Regions from separate parts of the Homo sapiens genome. Here region 1 is linked to region 2. Evidence: fine-mapped expression QTL. A gene starts in region 2. The other region holds a variant in brackets. All regions are shown on one strand. Distances are from middle to middle.

What was found. PIP is the estimated chance that this variant, and not a neighbour inherited with it, causes the effect.
Region 1: its variant is the best candidate, but not a certain one, in a credible set for the expression of NTF3 in sun-exposed skin (GTEx, PIP 0.62).

Annotation. Positions count from the first base shown.
Region 1 is chr12:5,455,521-5,463,851 of GRCh38, forward strand. All of the region lies in intron 1 of NTF3 (neurotrophin 3), which reads left to right. Among named protein-coding and RNA genes, the nearest start is that of NTF3, 28 kb to the left of the region's middle. The variant C/A (reference allele first, on the strand shown) is at 3,417.
Region 2 is chr12:5,428,948-5,437,278 of GRCh38, forward strand. NTF3 (neurotrophin 3) reads left to right here and starts at 3,161. Exons shown (of 2, transcript NM_001102654.2): 1 at 3,161-3,395. The coding sequence starts at 3,378. RefSeq lists an enhancer at 3,978-4,503.

The sequences.
Region 1 (8,331 bases), 27 kb after region 2:
TAACCCCTCCCCAACACACACACACACACACACACACACACACACACACACACACACACACACATAGCCCCTGTGATTGAGGGGGCCCCAATTCCTGTTCATATCCTCCAGGATAGCCCACCTGCACCCTCGACAGTGAGAGACAAAGTTCTATTCCCTGTTTAGATGGGTGCTGGGGACAATGGAAAGGAGGTGTGGCTCTGAGAAGTTCATGTCTTGCTCAGGGCACACAGCAGCTGATCGGGAACATGTTGCTGACTCCAAGATGCTGCCTTGCAAGAAGCTGGCTCTATCCTTCTTTTGGCTGAAGTGCCTTTCATGGATGGTGAGGGATGTGCAGGGAGAAGTGTCAGGAGTGAGGGTCAGTGGTTAGAATCAGGCAGTCCACAGAGTCTGAGAAAGCAAGACATTCTCTGGCAGTCTGGGGGTCATGATCGCCCACCCCAGCCCAGATAACCCTCACAGCTGTGCGGGCCACTAGAGAAAAAGGAGGGCATGTTTGGGGCAGGAGAGGCAAATGTTTGCTTATCTGTGACTTCTTCCTCCAAGCATGTCCGGACCTCCAGTCAATGGTGGGCTGTCAGTCGTCAGCTGAGGTTGAGCTTTCCTTAGCAGGAGCACTGGTCACTTGGGCTGGGATGGTTCTTAGTGGTACAGGATGCACTGCAAGCTTTAAATGCGAGTGGCATCATCCCCTTCCGGTCACCATGGCAACCAGAAACACCTTGACACATTTCCAAATGCCCTTTAGTAGGGCAGTGACAGCCCTTTTGAGAATCACATAGAATCGCATTGATTGATGAGTGAAAAATAAATGGATGGTAGCCTCCTTTTGTGATTTTTGCAGCGGCCTTTAGCTTCCTTTACTCACCCCAGAAATCAGTGGGACCCTGGGAGCTGTGTACCCCTCAGACCCAGTTGGAACCCAGCCAAGAGTACTTAATCCATCCCCACTTGTGGGGCCAACGGCACCTAACCACCTCAGGCACGGTGGACCTGGCTCCTCAGAGAGCTCTAGGGACAGAGGAGAGAAAGGGTCTGCATTCTGTTTGCAGCCCTGATCGTGAGCTCTGGGGGTCCTCTTCCACCCCCACCCCCACCCCCAGCCCCTGGAGCAGGTACTCGGGGTCAGAGCTCTGCTGAGGGTCTGGCTCTGGGAGGGGAGGTTTGTGTAAGATTCCCTCCCACGGTTCAGCACAGATGGGATGACAAGGACCAAATTCTGTTTCTGGGCTCTGATATTTGCCAAGATTTTTACCAGGCTTCCTGGAATAGACAGGGAAGCAGAGCAAGCTCCCGTAGGTCAAGTGATTTGGGCCCGAGTTGACCCAGAGTCCCTAAATGACTGCTGTGTAGCTACCATGAGTGTGCTGAGTGGCCCATAGGGGCAGGTATGAGAGAGGTGCTGAGGGAGGCAGGGGGCCCGCAGAACGGCCTCCCATCTCCACTGCCCGTCCCCAGGTCCACAGGCTCACAGAGCAGACACGGTCTGTGCCTGGGTTTGCTCACCCACAAGAGGAAGAACATAACATCTCGCTCCTTTTGCTGCACAGGATAAAACGAGAACAGAGAGGAAACAGGAAGTGCTTTGCATTCCAGAAAGAGCAGCAACTGTATAAAGTCATGCATATTAGGATTTGAGGTATGCATGGTCAGAAGTTAGAAACTAACCGAATCTTGTCATTGCCAGGAAGTTTCGGGGTTCTGTGACTGGTGGCCACTGATGTTCCTGTGTTCCTCCATTCCAGCTCCTACCTTGACTGTGTCCTCCTCTTCACACCTAACTTCTTTAGTGAAGGCTCCATTTCCTCATTTCCTGTTCAATGCTTAAACCCCTTGCAATCTGGCTTCTACCATCGCCTTATCACAGACCCTTCTCTGGCTTTGCCTTGCCTGGCCCTTCCATGATGTCTTCTTTCTTGAAACCCTCTTTCCTTGGTAGGATACCACGGCATCCTGGTTTTTGTCCTACCTCTGTGGCTGTTTCTGCGTGCTTTCCTTAGCTGACTTTTGCTCCTTTATCTGACCTGGGCTCTCCTCTCTCCATACACTCTCCATAGCCTATTCTAAGTGTCCCAGGTCTCTTATATCTTATCTCTCAAATGCACAATTACTTTGTGTTAGCTACAGACCCATATATCCAGCTTCCCTATAGATACCCCAAATGTCTTTGTAGGCTCCTAAACTCAGTGTATGCTAAGCTGAACAGGGGCTCCTTTTGTGCCCCAAACTTTCCCAACTCCAGTGAGTCTTCTCCATTGTCTTTCACCTTAATAAATGGAACCACCTGCGACTCTAGTGTGTGGTCCAGAGACTTGGAAGTCACCTCAGCTTGTCTCTCTGTCATCCGCAGGATCGGGCAGCCTCCAAGTCCTCATCATTCTAACTCTCATAATGCCTCTGGAGTTTGTCCAGATCTCCTCGTCACCACTGCCGCTACGCTAATCAAAACCACCATTGTCTCTTGCCATCCTCCATACTTTGCAAAGTTAATTGGGTCATTTTTCTACTTGAAATCTTATAATGGCTCTCCAGTGCCTCTGAGTCCTTGTTTTTTCAACACTGTTCACACTCTCCCCACCTCTCTCTCACTCATACCCCATGCACCAGCCATCCTGGGTTTTGCTGTTTTTGTTTCCCAGAATGCACAATGCACCTTCTGGCCTCTGAGCCACAGCACCTGGGTATTTGCTCACACTACTGCAGCTCTCCTCTTCCCTGCCACCACGCCTTTCTTGCCTGACTGTTAGTATGCAGCAGTGGCCACTTGAGCATGACCGCCTCTGGGAGGCTGTCCCTAGTCCTCTGTCGCATTCTGGGGCTCCCTATCACACACTCCCATTGCATGCTGCAGCATCCTCAGCACCCAGCATTCCTTATTGTAGTTCCTGATTCAACACCTTTCTCAGGAGACTCTGGACTTCTTGAAGGCAGGAACAATTCCCACTTGTTCCTAGTAGCATTCCAAACCACACGTGACAGTGTCTGGCTTATAATAAGCAGCCAATAAAAAGTTGATGAATGAATGAATAAGTGAAAACAGAAGGTGTTTGCCTGCAGAAATCTGGAATAAGATCAAAGATCAGAGCTGGGATTAAGGAAAAAACTTCCTTGGGGTGGCACTATGAATTCCCAGAACAGGTGACTAACCCTCATTCACTTTGGCAAATGTTTATCCCATGCCACGCAACCAGGCAAAAAGTTGAATGAGGTTTAATCCCTTCCCACACGGAGCTTATTCCTTCTTTGGAAGTCCTTTAAACAAGCTCTGAAATGATTTTGGCAGGTAGACAAACTGGTCCTCATTTCTCTGTGACCAGTAAGTAGGGAAAGCAAGCACACATACACACACACACACACACGTGCACACGCACACTGACAGACAACCTTGCTCACTCACATGGGCATGCCCAAAC[C/A]CTTCTTCTATTTTATAGGATGGTAACTCACTCTTTAGTTTAGACTCTTGACGTGCCATGGAAAATCCCACTCGCCCTAGAACTGGGGGCCGGGCAGGTTTGACTGTAACAACGAAGCCTGGAGCTTACTCTTTGCTGATTGGCTTTCCTTTCTGTCTCCATTTTTCCCCTGGTGAGCACTGCAGTTGTGTTCTTCCTCCCAAAGGTAATGCCTGGTTTGGCTCACTAAAACCTGTTCTTTCTGTACCGAGAGCTCATCTTCTCTTCCTCTTCTGGATTCTCAAATGAGATGACGTCAGAGGATGGAGGCCAACCACACCCTTCCTCCTTGACCCTGATAAAGTTTCTTGGAAACCCTATACTCAGAGGCAGCCAATTCTTGCCAGTGGAAGAGTGAAAAGAGGGCTTGGGAAGCTCAAGGCTCAGTGTCTGTCCCCAGGTCCCCCAGTTAAAGACACATCTGTCCTTCACTCTCAAAGATGTTGCCATTGCTCCCCTGCTAGAGTGACACACTGCACTCCCTCCTTCCCTTCACACCCCAGCAAGAGGCTATTTCCCAGGGGTCTTATAAGCAGATTTCATCTTCTCTTGTGCTGTTTTCTTATTTCAATTATCTTCAGGGAGGAACGTGCATATTGCGTCATTGCCTGGCTGTGAAATTTCATTTCCATTTCTTTACACCTGCAGTTGCAATACGAGAGAGAAAAGGCCAGAGCTTAGCGGATGTCCTAGACGCAGGTTATCAAGGTGCTGTGGCTGTGGTTTCCCGGAAAAGGCCTTGGTCCCAGAGCACATTTTATCAGCAGGACCTTCGAGGGGCTGCGTTCCTTCAATTGTTTTCTCTTTGGGGTCTCTGGTCTCCAGTTCTTTCTTCTCTAGCATGTGAGATCTGTGCTTTTGATTCATGCCTTTAAGTCTGACATTGAAAAAATATCTGATTTGCCATTCCAGATGCTCGTCCTCATTTGCAAATTTTCCTAAAGGGCCAGATTGTCCTCTGGCCTTTTCCCTTTTCCTGGTCCCACCTCACCACCCTCCCACTGGGGCTTCACAGAGGCAGAGCTAGTCTCCTTTCATTTTTTAAAATTAATAGTCTTCAATTTTTAGAACAGTTTTAAGTTCACAGAAAAATTAACCAGCTATTACAGAGTTACCGTATAACTCCTCCCCCTCACTCCCCAGTTTTCTCCATTATTAGCATGTTGCATTAGTGCAGTACATTTGTTGCAGTTAATAAGCAAATATTAGCCCATCATTATTAACTCAAGTCTATAGTTTACATTAAGGTGTATTCTTTGTGTTTTACAGTTTTATGGGTTATGACAAATGCATAATGTTATGTATCCACCATTATAGCATACAGAATAGTTTCACTGCCCTAAAACTCTCCTGTGCTCCACCTGCCCATCCCTCCTCCCTCCTCTGCCACCAATCCCTGGCAGCCACCAGTCTTTTGACTGCCTAGAGTTTCGCCTTTTTCAGAATATCATAGTAGTTGGAATAATACAGTGCGTAGTCTTTTCAGACTGGCTCCTTTCACTTAGCAATATGCATTTTAAGTTTCTTCCATGGAAACTTTGCTTTCATCCTTTTATCACCACAAGGCCAGTCATCCAAGGAATTTCTCCATCTCTGTCTGTTCCTTTCTAGTTCTATGTGTGCCACTGCTTGGCATAGAATAGGTATCCATTTAATGAACATTCCCTTTCACCACCTGGGACACCTTCCCAGGGATAACAAAAATAAAACCAGCTAGGTCAATAGCAGAGCCCCCATCCCAGTTTTAACCTCATTCTCCCCTCTTTCCACAATAAACTGGATCAGAACCAGCAGCTCTGTAAGACTGCATTTCTTTCCCTTAATACCAGGCCCCAGAGAGCATTTGATTCCTTGGCAGAGAGGTGTAGGCTTAATTAATTTTTCTCCTTTTTTCTTTGAACATCTTGGAACACACACACACACATTCGCATTTATGCACAATTGGGTGTATGAGAATTTTAATGGCAGGTGGTGTTAGCAGTTCTTTTCCTCCTGATACAGATCAGGGTTTTTCCATCTGGGCCTTTTAGCAGGGCCTATGAATATTGACTTTCTAACCACTTGGATTTGGGTGGAGTGTGCAGAGTGGGATTGGGGGGGAAGGTTCAAGGGAGAACTATACTTATGTATAAATCACATGTGAAGGGAGTTTTGAAGTCATTATTGCTTCAGGATGTGCGAACCATAATTATTTTTTAAGGTCTTGATTTGCCCAAAGAGCATTTCCCAGGGTTGCTGCTCCAAGCATGACGTCTGTGCTGTCAGGAGGTGCAGCATAGTCTGATTCGAGTTTAATCGCTTTAAAGGAGGCCCTGGGTAGGATCTGGTCTCTAGGTTCTCAGCTGTGGTCAGTCCTCCATGCAGCAAAACATCCAGATGACTTAGATGATTAAGACAGCAGACTTAAAGTGAAGAAGAGATTTTTTCCCTTATTCTTTCCTTTTATTATTAGTTTTTAAATGGTTGGCTACATGGGCTGTTGGTCATTCTCCATGTTCTCTGTGCTCTCCTCAGCTCTCTGCTCAAAACAGGCTGCACCGGCCTGCCTAAACCCTGAAAGCAACTTCTCAGCTGCCTACTTTCTGCCTTTTGACCCCCAAGCCAATCCCCATCTCCTTACCACCCTCCCGCCATGTCCTCATACACCTGCCTCTCCTTGACTTCATTCTTCATGCTCCATCAGCAACAGCCCTCTGTCAATAATGATTGTCCCAGGGAAGTGTATTCAAGGGTCACATAAAATGTGCCCTCTCTATGTGTTGAGAAGGTTTTCTGTCCCCAAAGGAGCTCTCTGGATAATGAGGAAGGTTGAACTGGGGCAGCCTACAGGAAGAAGCCCTTAGAAGGGAAACCTGTGGCATAAACCATGCTGATCCACGACTCTTATTTTGGAATAGCTATTTAAAAAGAAATATGAAGAACTCGTAAGACTTGGAAAAGAAAACTAGAGAATGTTGAAAATGTCCAAGGGTTATGTGTATGATGTGTATGGGGAAATTTTAAAAGAATGTGGTAGAAAACTGAATTTGTGGTAAAATGTTGTCACAGGACGGCCTGTTCTTTCATTGAATTATGTCTTAGTGCAGGGATGACAAATAAATACAGCAACTGTGCTGCCATTCTCACATCTTTTCCTACAGTAGGCATCACTAATCAATTACAACATTCTTTTCCACTGTCATGCCTTTGCCTACAGCAGACATCACTAATCAATCACAGCACTCTCTCTCATTGAGTTTCAAAGGTTTTTTAATCCTCCACATAGGTCTCTAAGTAGCTATATACCAATTACTTTGATTTAGAACTTGGATTACCAATTTGCCATCTCTAGTTTAATGGGAAGAACATTAGGATTAGAGTCAGAATACCTGAATTCAAGTTACTGACCTACTACTTAATAATAATTAATTTTAATAATTCTCTAACCTCAGCTTTCTCCTCTATAATAAGAAATAATGCTTACCACAGAGGCTCGAGGTAAGGATTAAGTAAGATAATATATAACATGTAAGATAATTTGTGTGATGGTTCCTAGAATAGTACCTGGTGCATTGTAAGCACCCAGCAAGTGATAGCCAAGTATGAATTTGCAGCGGCATGGACACATCATGCCACACCCCAGATATGGAACAATAGTTAGGATTCCATTCACCTTTGCTTCTTTTAACATCCTCAGTGAAGGCAGATGGAGAACAGCTGGACCCTCTAATTCTACCTGACTTTAACTTCACATTCTTAAGATGCTTATTAAATCTCTCTTTCCTGAACTAATATAATGCTTCCTTGTTACCCTGGAAGGACAGAGTTAACACCCATGTATTATGACATGATGGATGTTCTTTTTGCGCACACTGCATGCATAGCCATGTGCCAAGGCCAGGCCTGCCTTAGCTTTTTGGTTCTCCAGAGCAGCTTCACTGTGACTGAAGAGAGCCAGGGAAGACATCTTGGTAGAGCTCTTTATATGACTCTTTTCAGAATGTTTCTCACTGATGGAGATGACAGAAAGCTAGGATGATTTGCAGGCAGGAGGACAGGCTTCTTTGGAAAAGGTTTCACCATAGATTACCTCAATCCAGGGTTGGAAGACTGGAAAGTGGTCTGCAGGGCATCCCAGGGGATGCCTTCTTCAAGACAATATTAGACTAGCATTGGACCCTGCCTCCAGACTAGTAAAGGGTTATTTTCAGAGCAGCAACACCAGAGAACATGTTTTGAGCAAATCAAATCCTTAAAATCATGATTTCATACATCCTGAGATACTAGTGACTTCAAAATGCCTTTCTCAAATTATACATATAGTGCCTTCTGAATCAACTGTCTTTTTTCTGTCCAACAGTATAAACATAATCTCTGCCCTCACACAGCTTAGAAACTGTCATGAGAGGTAAACAAATACACAAATGACAAGGTAAAATAGAAGAGCTACAAAAGAGATCATGAAAATATCCAGGGAGTTCGAAGGTGGCAGATAACAAAAGGCTTCGTGGAGGAGGTAGCCTTTGTGGCATTTGAGATCAGTCCTGCAGCAGGGTTATAGGTGGACAGGCAGAGATGGTTGGGGGTGGGCGGTAGGAGGGACAGACAGAAGGAACCACAAGAATGAGGATATGGAGAAAAAGACCACTGAAGGGTGCAAATTATTAAGGATGGATTTATGTAAAGGATGTGGCCTAAGAAGAAGGACTCTTCTTTATGATGAAATTAGGTTTTAGAGGCAGAAGTCTGGTGCTTCCCGGTACTAAAATGACCCCAGTATGGTGTCTGCAGAATACTTAGATAACTGCATAGATGGTTCAGCCTTCTTTCCATTATACCACACTACTGGGTTACCAACTTGCTGTGTGACCTTAGATAAGCAACTACCTCTCTCTGG
Region 2 (8,331 bases):
AAAAGATAAGGGTAACCAGAAGGCACGCTCTGGAAATTTGCTTTAGGAGAGAGTTTTAAAGGGGGTTTTCAAAAACAAGATCTGATTCCTGCTCTCAGAAATCACTTCCAGGAGTCAGGGCCTTACTCTCAGATGCAGCAGGGAGAAGAAGAAAGTTCAGCAACCTAAAAATACAGTCGACAGATGGGCAGCCAAAGTCATGGCCACGAAGTCAACTTGGAGAGGAGCACCTACCTAGTGAATCCTAAAAGATCTCATCCTGGATGCTTCCTTAACCAGGCCTATGTACAGGGCACAAGCTCGCAGCCAGCTTACTTTCCAGTCCTGATCTTTGCTTTTGCTATCCATACCAATGGTATTTCTATAGAAAAGAAAAATCTCTATTTAGAAACACGGATTTACTTAGAAGTCACAATATTCTAGTTTAAAAATGGCTCTACATAGTAGAGAATGATCTTTTTATTCTGTCTTCTTAAAAATACACCTTTCTAATTCTTTTTTTCTTCCCACCTTCTTCATTCAGCACCTTGCCACTCCCTTGGAAGCCACAACAGCGAGCTGGGGGGTCAGTCCCTAGTCTTAGAGGGAAGAAATCTTTAGGTCTGAAGTCTAAAGAAAAACAGTAAAGGAAAAGGCAGTTGGCGGTGCTCAAGGTAGACTGTCTGAAAGAGGTCTTCTACTCAGAAAAGGGCTAAGGCTCTCCCTTTGGGAAACCAATCCTTCTGAGAAAAAGTGCATCTTTCACCCTCTGCTCCTGTCTGGGTCTCTCCCTCTTCCTCCCTCCTTCCCTCAGTCCCTCCTCCCCTCTCTCCACAAAGACACAGCACATATTTGGCAAGATTAAGGTGTCACCTCTCATATTACAAGGCCTGTTGATTGCAAGCAAAGACAGACCCACCAGCTTAGGACAAAACCCCTTGGAGTTGGAAATAAGACAAACTCTGGGATCCCCGAAAGTCCCGGCAAAATGACGCGGCCAGCCAGTGCAAGGCATCTGCAGAACAAATCCAAGTCCTAAACGCACTGCTTGCTGCCTTTTCTTCTCCTTCCTTTCTTCTGATTTTTCAAGTTTGTTTGCCCCCCTTCCCCTCCTCCCTCCAGACTGCCAGGGACCTGGGAGCTGCCTGCAGATCAGCCCGCACATGTATTTAACCCCTTCCCTGCTGCAGCAGGAGCCAACCACCTCTTTCCTTGCAATCTTCAGGTTCCCAGAGGACCTGGAGCTTGAGAAAAGAACTCTGCCAGTGGATCTGAAACTGGGGCCTGAATCCCTCCTTTGACCAGGGCGAGAAGCTGGAGGAGGGGGGCAAGTGCGGGAAGTGGGGGAGGGCAGGGAGGCGGGCCAGATGAGAGGGAGAAAAGCAGAACCCGACAGAGCACGCCCAATCCAAACCTTCATGGTGCTGTGTGGCTGGGTGGAGGGAACGACTCGGCAGCCTCTTCTGGCCCTGAGGAAGACGTCGATATTTTGGCACGAGGGGAGCCACTGAAGGACTACCCTACCCTTGCGAGGGACCGCAGGAGGTGACGCCCCTGGGCCTCGGTGGGCGCTTCTGGCGGTTTTCGATGTGGCAACCCCCATCAGCCAGGATAATGATGAGGCAGGTACAATCTATCTAGTACGCAGCCCCCAGACTCCCCCCTCCCTTCCCACCTCCCCATCCAACCCCCCAGCTACTCTCTGCGGCCGGTTGGTCCTGAACTGGTGGGTGCAGTTCCGATGTTTAACCAAATTCTCAAGCAATTTCAAGGTATTTGGATTTTTTGAACCTGGGCCCTAACCGAAACGCGGAACGGCTTGCTTATTAGACACCTCGAACGACAGGGCAGGGAGGAAACGGGATACTCGCTGCCCTTCCCAGTCGCGCGTGAGTCAAAAGGTCCTGGCAGGAGATGATGTGAGGAGCGGCTGAAGTGGCAGGGAGGAAGGGATGAGGGGCTTGGAGCGGAGGTCCACCACGCAAGGACTCGGGAAGCGGGCAAGTGGGCAAAACTCTGCTTCCGGGCTCTCGATTTCTCGTTGATCACTAAGTGGTATTTTTCCCCCTTCTCTCGATGGCAAATGGGCGAAATCAAGATGACTTAACTTGGTAAATTTAGAGAGAACGGCTCGGAGCAAGTGAGGTCTAACGGGCAGCTAAAATTATCTCCAAATAAGAGATTTTGACCCCCTCCCCCTATCCTCTCCTCGAATGTATCCACCGGTGGGGAAGTGAGCGTCATTACTTTCGGGGCGCCACGAACAGGTTTGTTTGTTGCTCGCCTTTCCTGCTTCTCGCGCTGTCCCCGCGTGCAGACTGGTGGGTGCTGGGCGAGTGATTAGCTGCAGGGCCCCATCCTAGTTTGGAAGGAAGGGGTTTAGAAGTTGGAGGATGGGTGAAATGGGAGGCTGCGATCCATCTCCCTCTCCCTTCCACACTCAAGCTCCCGCAAACACGCGCGCGCACACACAGCCCCTCCCTAGTCCCTCGGACCACCCGCCCCCACGCCCCTCTACCTTGACCTCCCTTGACCGCCGACACAGCGTCCTGGGTGCGGGTCCCCGGGAGCGGGGAGTTCGCCGGGGAGCGATTGTCCTTGGGCGTGTTCGTGCTGTGGGGTGGGGGGAGGAGTGGCGGGTGGGCTTGGTAGGGGGTGGGGAGAGATCTGGAGCTGGAAGGGTCTAAGGTTTGGAGGAGGAGTTTACGCCTCAGACCTGATCCTCCTGAGGAAAAAGGCAGGAAAAGGCCCTGATGCCTTGTAAAGAAAATCTTGAAAGAAAAAAGATCAAAAAGAAAAATTTCAAGAAAAAGAACCACTAAGAAAGGCTGAAGACACTAACATGTAACCTGTTACGATACATTTAACGTTTCGTTTTTTCCTGGATCTCTAAAAGGGAACTCAAGGGTGGGGGTTACTGAAGAATACTACAGATTTGGAAGTTTTTGTTGCTGTTGTTGTTTGGTTTGGTTTTGTTTTTCAAGAGGGGCCAGGAGAAATGACCCCTTCCCCGCCACGGGTCCCGAAGTGAGGGCGGGGGGGGGGCTCTGGGGCGCGGGCGCGCGCGGCGCGGCGCGGGCCGGCGGGGGAGGGCGGCGCGGCGCGGAAGGGGTTAAGGCGCTGAGCGCGGAGCCATCTGGCCGGGTTGGCTGGTTATAACCGCGCAGATTCTGTTCACGGGACTCAGAGTTGAAGCTCCTCTCCCTTCCGAACAGCTCCGCGCACCGCCCCGCGACGCAGCCCGGCGCAACTACTTTCTTCTCTCTCCTTTCTTTCTTCCTCTCCTTTTTCCCCTGCTGGGTAGTGGCTGCGGCGGGGTGGGGGAGACTTTGAATGACCGAGCTCGCGTCCACCTTTCTCTTCATGTCGACGTCCCTGGAAACGGCCACACGGATGCCATGGTTACTTTTGCCACGGTAAGGGGAGGCGGCGGGCACCTTGGGTGGGCAGGTTTGGGGATGGGGGTCCACGTGGGGAGGGATTTTCCAGTGGACTGGTGCGGGGGGCCCCAGATCCGCATCCCGCCCCACCCCCATCGCGCCGCGCTCACTCACTTTCCCGGGCTTGTGTCTTCCCCAAAGTTTGCGCTGGGATCTGCTCAGGCCGAAGCGCAACCGCAGCCACCCCGCTACACACACACACACACACACACACACACACACACACACACACACACACACAGACACGGACACCCTTCTCCACCTCCTCCCCTCTTGTCCCTCGGCTGCCCAAGAAGCTTCCCTCAATCTGGGAAAGTGATCAGGTTTAAGGGACCTGGATTGGAAAGGGTGGGGGCAGAAGAGGGGAAATGGGGACGACGAAAGAGCAGGAAAGAGATTCAACAGAATCAACCACCCACCACTCCCAACCGACCCGCCTGCTCCTCCGAGAAAGCTCCTAGCGCATCCTATAACAAAAGGGGGTGGCAGACAGAACTCCGGGCGGGGAGGTGCCGCGGCAGCTCCCCTGCACACGCCCTGCACTCTGCCGGCCGCTGAGCCTGATTCTCAGCTCGCCCCAGCACCACTCTGGCCCGGGCGTGGGCTGGGGGGAGGGGACGCGCAGCTCAGGACCCGGAACCTCGCGTTCCAGTTTTGGGAGTTGGGACTCACTGCCACGCGCCGCGTACCTGCGTTGGAGTTCCCCGAAAGGGTTTTTTCAGAAAAGACCTCGCGCCCCGGGCTCCTCTTGGCCAGCGCCCACCCGGTGGCCACCCCACCCTGGGCCTTTGCGCAGATGTTGGAGCTCCGTACGCAGCCCGCACATCTGGGACCCCTCCGGGGAGCGGCGGGCACCCGGGCCCGGCCATCCCAGGGGATCTCCTTGCGGTATCGTCCAGCCTGTTCTCGGACTTTGAGCGGTGGCGTGGGAGGCCGGGAGACCTGGGCACCCGCGCAGCCAGCCAGGTCGGAGTTTAAAGGTCCCACGACGGACCGAACTGTCCCATTGCCCCAGAGCTTTACTCAGTGGTGGATGCTCCTGATGAAATTTGGGACGCTTGGGAGTTGAAGGTTAGGGACAGGAGGGGCGAGGGCCGAGGGCATGGGATGGGGGAGTAGGATTCTGCTTGTTGCTCTCCGCGGGAGTGGGTGCGCGTCCAGGAGGCGCTGCTTCTTTGCGGGAGTTTGGCTGCTGCGTTCATTCGTCGTCTGCGCTTCAGATGCACGGCACTGAGACCCTTGCGTCCGACGGTGTCGGGGCTGTGGACTAGAAAGGATCCCTTTTGCTGGAATCGAGGCTGGGGTGGGATTGCCGGTGGGGGAAACACCGAAAAGATCGTCTGGCCTCGGCCTCTGGCGGCGGGCGGCAGGTTCTGAGTCCGAATGGAGGTTGCTCCCGGGAGCGCCGGGCTCAGAGCTAGAGAGCTCGGGAGACTGTGCGCCTGTGGACTTGTTTATGTGTGTGAAGAGGCGGGGGCGAGGGCCTGCTGAGAGGGGAGGGGAGCCTGGAAGGGGTGGGTGTTTCTCCTGGAGCCTGATGTTTGTAACTCAGCTGATTATGGAGTGCACTGAGCGACCTGCTTTTTAAATAAAGAGGTGCCCGCTCCTACCCCGCAAAACAGCGAACGAGGAGAACATGGAAGCGCTCTGTCCTAAACGTCAGGATGGGAGAAAGTTGTAACATAGAGGAGACTTTTCCAGAGGTCCTGTTTTCACAACACTCAGAAGTTCTCCAGCGTACTCAGCCTGCCTCCCGCCTGCCCTCAATTCCTTTTTGACATGTCACACAAAGAAAGCTGAAAGGTAGAATGTGGAGGATAAACTCCAACCCCCTCTGCCTTGGGCGCAAACACACAGACTTAGGTATCGTGTTAGGAGGTAAGGGGGTTGGAAAATAATGCAGGCTCCGGTAGACAGTGTTGAAGGGAGATAGAAAGTCTGGGGTATTTCCCCTAGGGAGAGTGTGTGGGATTTTGTGTTGGTGAGGACTGGAGTGTAGCTGGACTTAGAGGGTTTGGTTGTGTGTGAATGGGATATGCTTATCTATGGAGTGAGATTGTGACCATTGAGTGAGTGGTCAGGGAGGGATGGGGATGTTTTTCCAAAGTGTGTGTGTGTGTGTGTGTGTGTGTGTGTGTGTAGGGGAAGGTGGCAAAAGAGCTGGAGTCCTATCCCTCTTTGGTGCCTGGGAGGTGTGTGTTTCTGGGGAGTCTGTCGGATGGGCATCTGTGTGCTTAGCGGGAGACAAGAGCTTGCAGGAACATAGGTGTAGCTAATGCGAAATCTGTGCCTATGAAGGGTGTCAGAGCAGGAGGAGAGGTGCAGCCTGTTGAAGACAGATGGCTTGTGCATGCCTGCACAAACACATGGAGTGGGTGTGGTGTAGGAGGGCGGCTGTGTGTGTGAGGGAAAGGTGGATGCATGTGGAAGGTTGGGCGCCTGAGGATTACCAAAGGGATGTGTGTGGGGGGTGGGGGAAGATTATCTGAGGAGCACGGGGTTTGAACTTCATGAGGGTGCACTGGGAAATTTGGCTGGAATGGCACTGGGGCATGTAGGGGGTAGAAAAGTGTGAGCTCAGATCCTCTTTATGGAAAGACAAAGCATTTGCAGGGAAGGACACCGGGTTGGTGTTGGTGTTTGCCTCCCCCCTCCTTCCTCCCCAGAGAGAAGAGAATTGGAGGAGGCTTAGAATGAGGGATGTACATTTAAGGGGAAAAGTCCTTGTGCATTGGCACTGGGTGGGAACAGGAAGAGATGTGTGCATAAGACTGAAGTAAGTAGAGGAATGCACTATCTGTGCCTGGTGTCAGGGATGCATGTTGTATAATGTTTTGTAATGGGTTTCTTATGTAATAGGAGAATTCACTATCACCAGTTCATATTGATAATCAATTAAAGCTAATGGAGTGCCTACTGGATGCTCAGCCCATTGCTGGGTACTGGGGCATGGCACACTGCCCTGGAAAAATTCCTTCTCCAGGCTCAGTAAAACTGATGCAATTTTGCCAGAAATAGACAGAGCTCGACGCTTGTTGAGGTTTCTTCAAGGTCTATAATTCAGTTTCTAGAGATGTTTATGGATCTTGGGGGCCAAAGGGAAGCTGACTTGAAATATATCTCTGGTTTTGTAAAAAGTGGGGCATAAAGAGAGGGATGATGTAGACTTTTGTGTATTGGGAAGGGAGCTGGACGGTGTTGTTGTTTCTTGTGTGGGGTGTGGGCTGGGAATTGGAGGGTGCTGCACTTCAGGTCAGAATGCAGGTCCAGATCCCTCTAAGGATTGAGTTTCTAAGAGTACACAGAGCCTCCTTCATAGCTGGAATGAGACCTGTTATGTGGAGCTGGAGAATGGTGAAGTCATGATCAAGGAAGAGATGGACTGGGAGTGTTTGTTCATCTTTGATGTTTTCTGGGCTACGAGTGTAAAGCTAACCTGAGTGTGTGTTGGGGGGGTGGGTATGCATGCAGGTGCGTGCACATGCACTTTGGCCTGGAGTAACGTAACTGGGAGAAAACTAGCGAGGTGGATAGGAGGGGTGGATATTCTGGCTCTTGTGAAGGGGGTGCCAGTATGTGTTTTTGCAGGAATTCTGTGTGTCTGGGGAAGGATAAAAATTGTCTTGGATACTCAGATGTGCATCTTTAGCGAAAAAAGGTGTACACAAAAGAAGGGCCGTAGACTTTGGGGAATGAGACAAAGGTGTCGTTGATCGGGTCCATACCCTGAGATGGCTGGTGAGGCAACTGGGTAGGAACAGAGTGAAGGCTGTGCTTTTGTGATGCACACATCTGCCTGTCTGGAGCAGACGATGGGGATCCCCATTTGATTAGGTTCTGACCACCGTTGGGCATATGTTTGGGAGGACTTTATTTGACTCATGACATTTTTGAATTCATGAAGTTACAGCTGTGCCATTTTAAGGGTCTACCTTATTTTTGAGAGGGAAACTCATCTGTGTAAGAGATAGTTTATATAGGGCTTGACTATTGGTCAGAAGATCCGGGGCAGATATTTCTGAGAGCAGGGTGGTGAAGTGCAAGACTGGATTGGGAATGTCTTAGTTCTAGTCCAGTTCTACCACTTGGGAAAAGTGTGACTTTGGGGACATTTTTAATCTCTATAACTCTTCTGTTTCTCTTTTTGTAAAGGGGCAATATAATGACTCAAGGAGAAGGAAAGTTCACTCCTCTTTTCCCCCATCAAAACTTGATGTGTTTAGTTGTATACAGCCATACAAAGATGAAATGTAATTAAATACAGGTGCTAGCACGTATGTAGGTCATTGTGAAAATAGGATCTGGACCCCTTTCTCTTTACAATGCAACTTAATCAGTAATCATGATGCCCACAGCATCTCTACTGCTCACTCATTGTGTAAATAAAACTTTTTATAACTGCCTCAGTTTACTCATCCAGAAGCTGGAGGCAGCCAAACCTAGATTATAGATGATGGAAATCTTTAAGATCTTTGAGCTATTCAGAGGAAAGGTAGTCTAAGAATCAATGTTATTAATGATCAGAGACAGACATTTCTTTATTTTTTAACATCAGCTATGCAGACCACAGCACCAAAAGAAATGTGACGTGGAGAACAGCAAAAATAATAATTGCCCTTGACATAGGCACCATTTGAATAAAAGAAGAGCAAAGTCTAGCCTGCCTGGTAAGAGGAAAGCCTGGGCTTTGGGTCTTTGAAATTCTTTGTGCCCAGTGCAGCAAGTTGGGTACAGCCACTTTCCCCAGAGATGAAGATGGAGTCGTAGAGGGGCATGGAAACACACTGAAACCTCCGATTCCTCCCAGAAGTCAGTACATGCTGTCAACTCCTGGCTCAGAGTCAGGCTCCCATCCTTGAGTTCAGTGGCCATAAATAGTCAGGAGCTAAGCTATTTCCAAGAGGCACTAAAC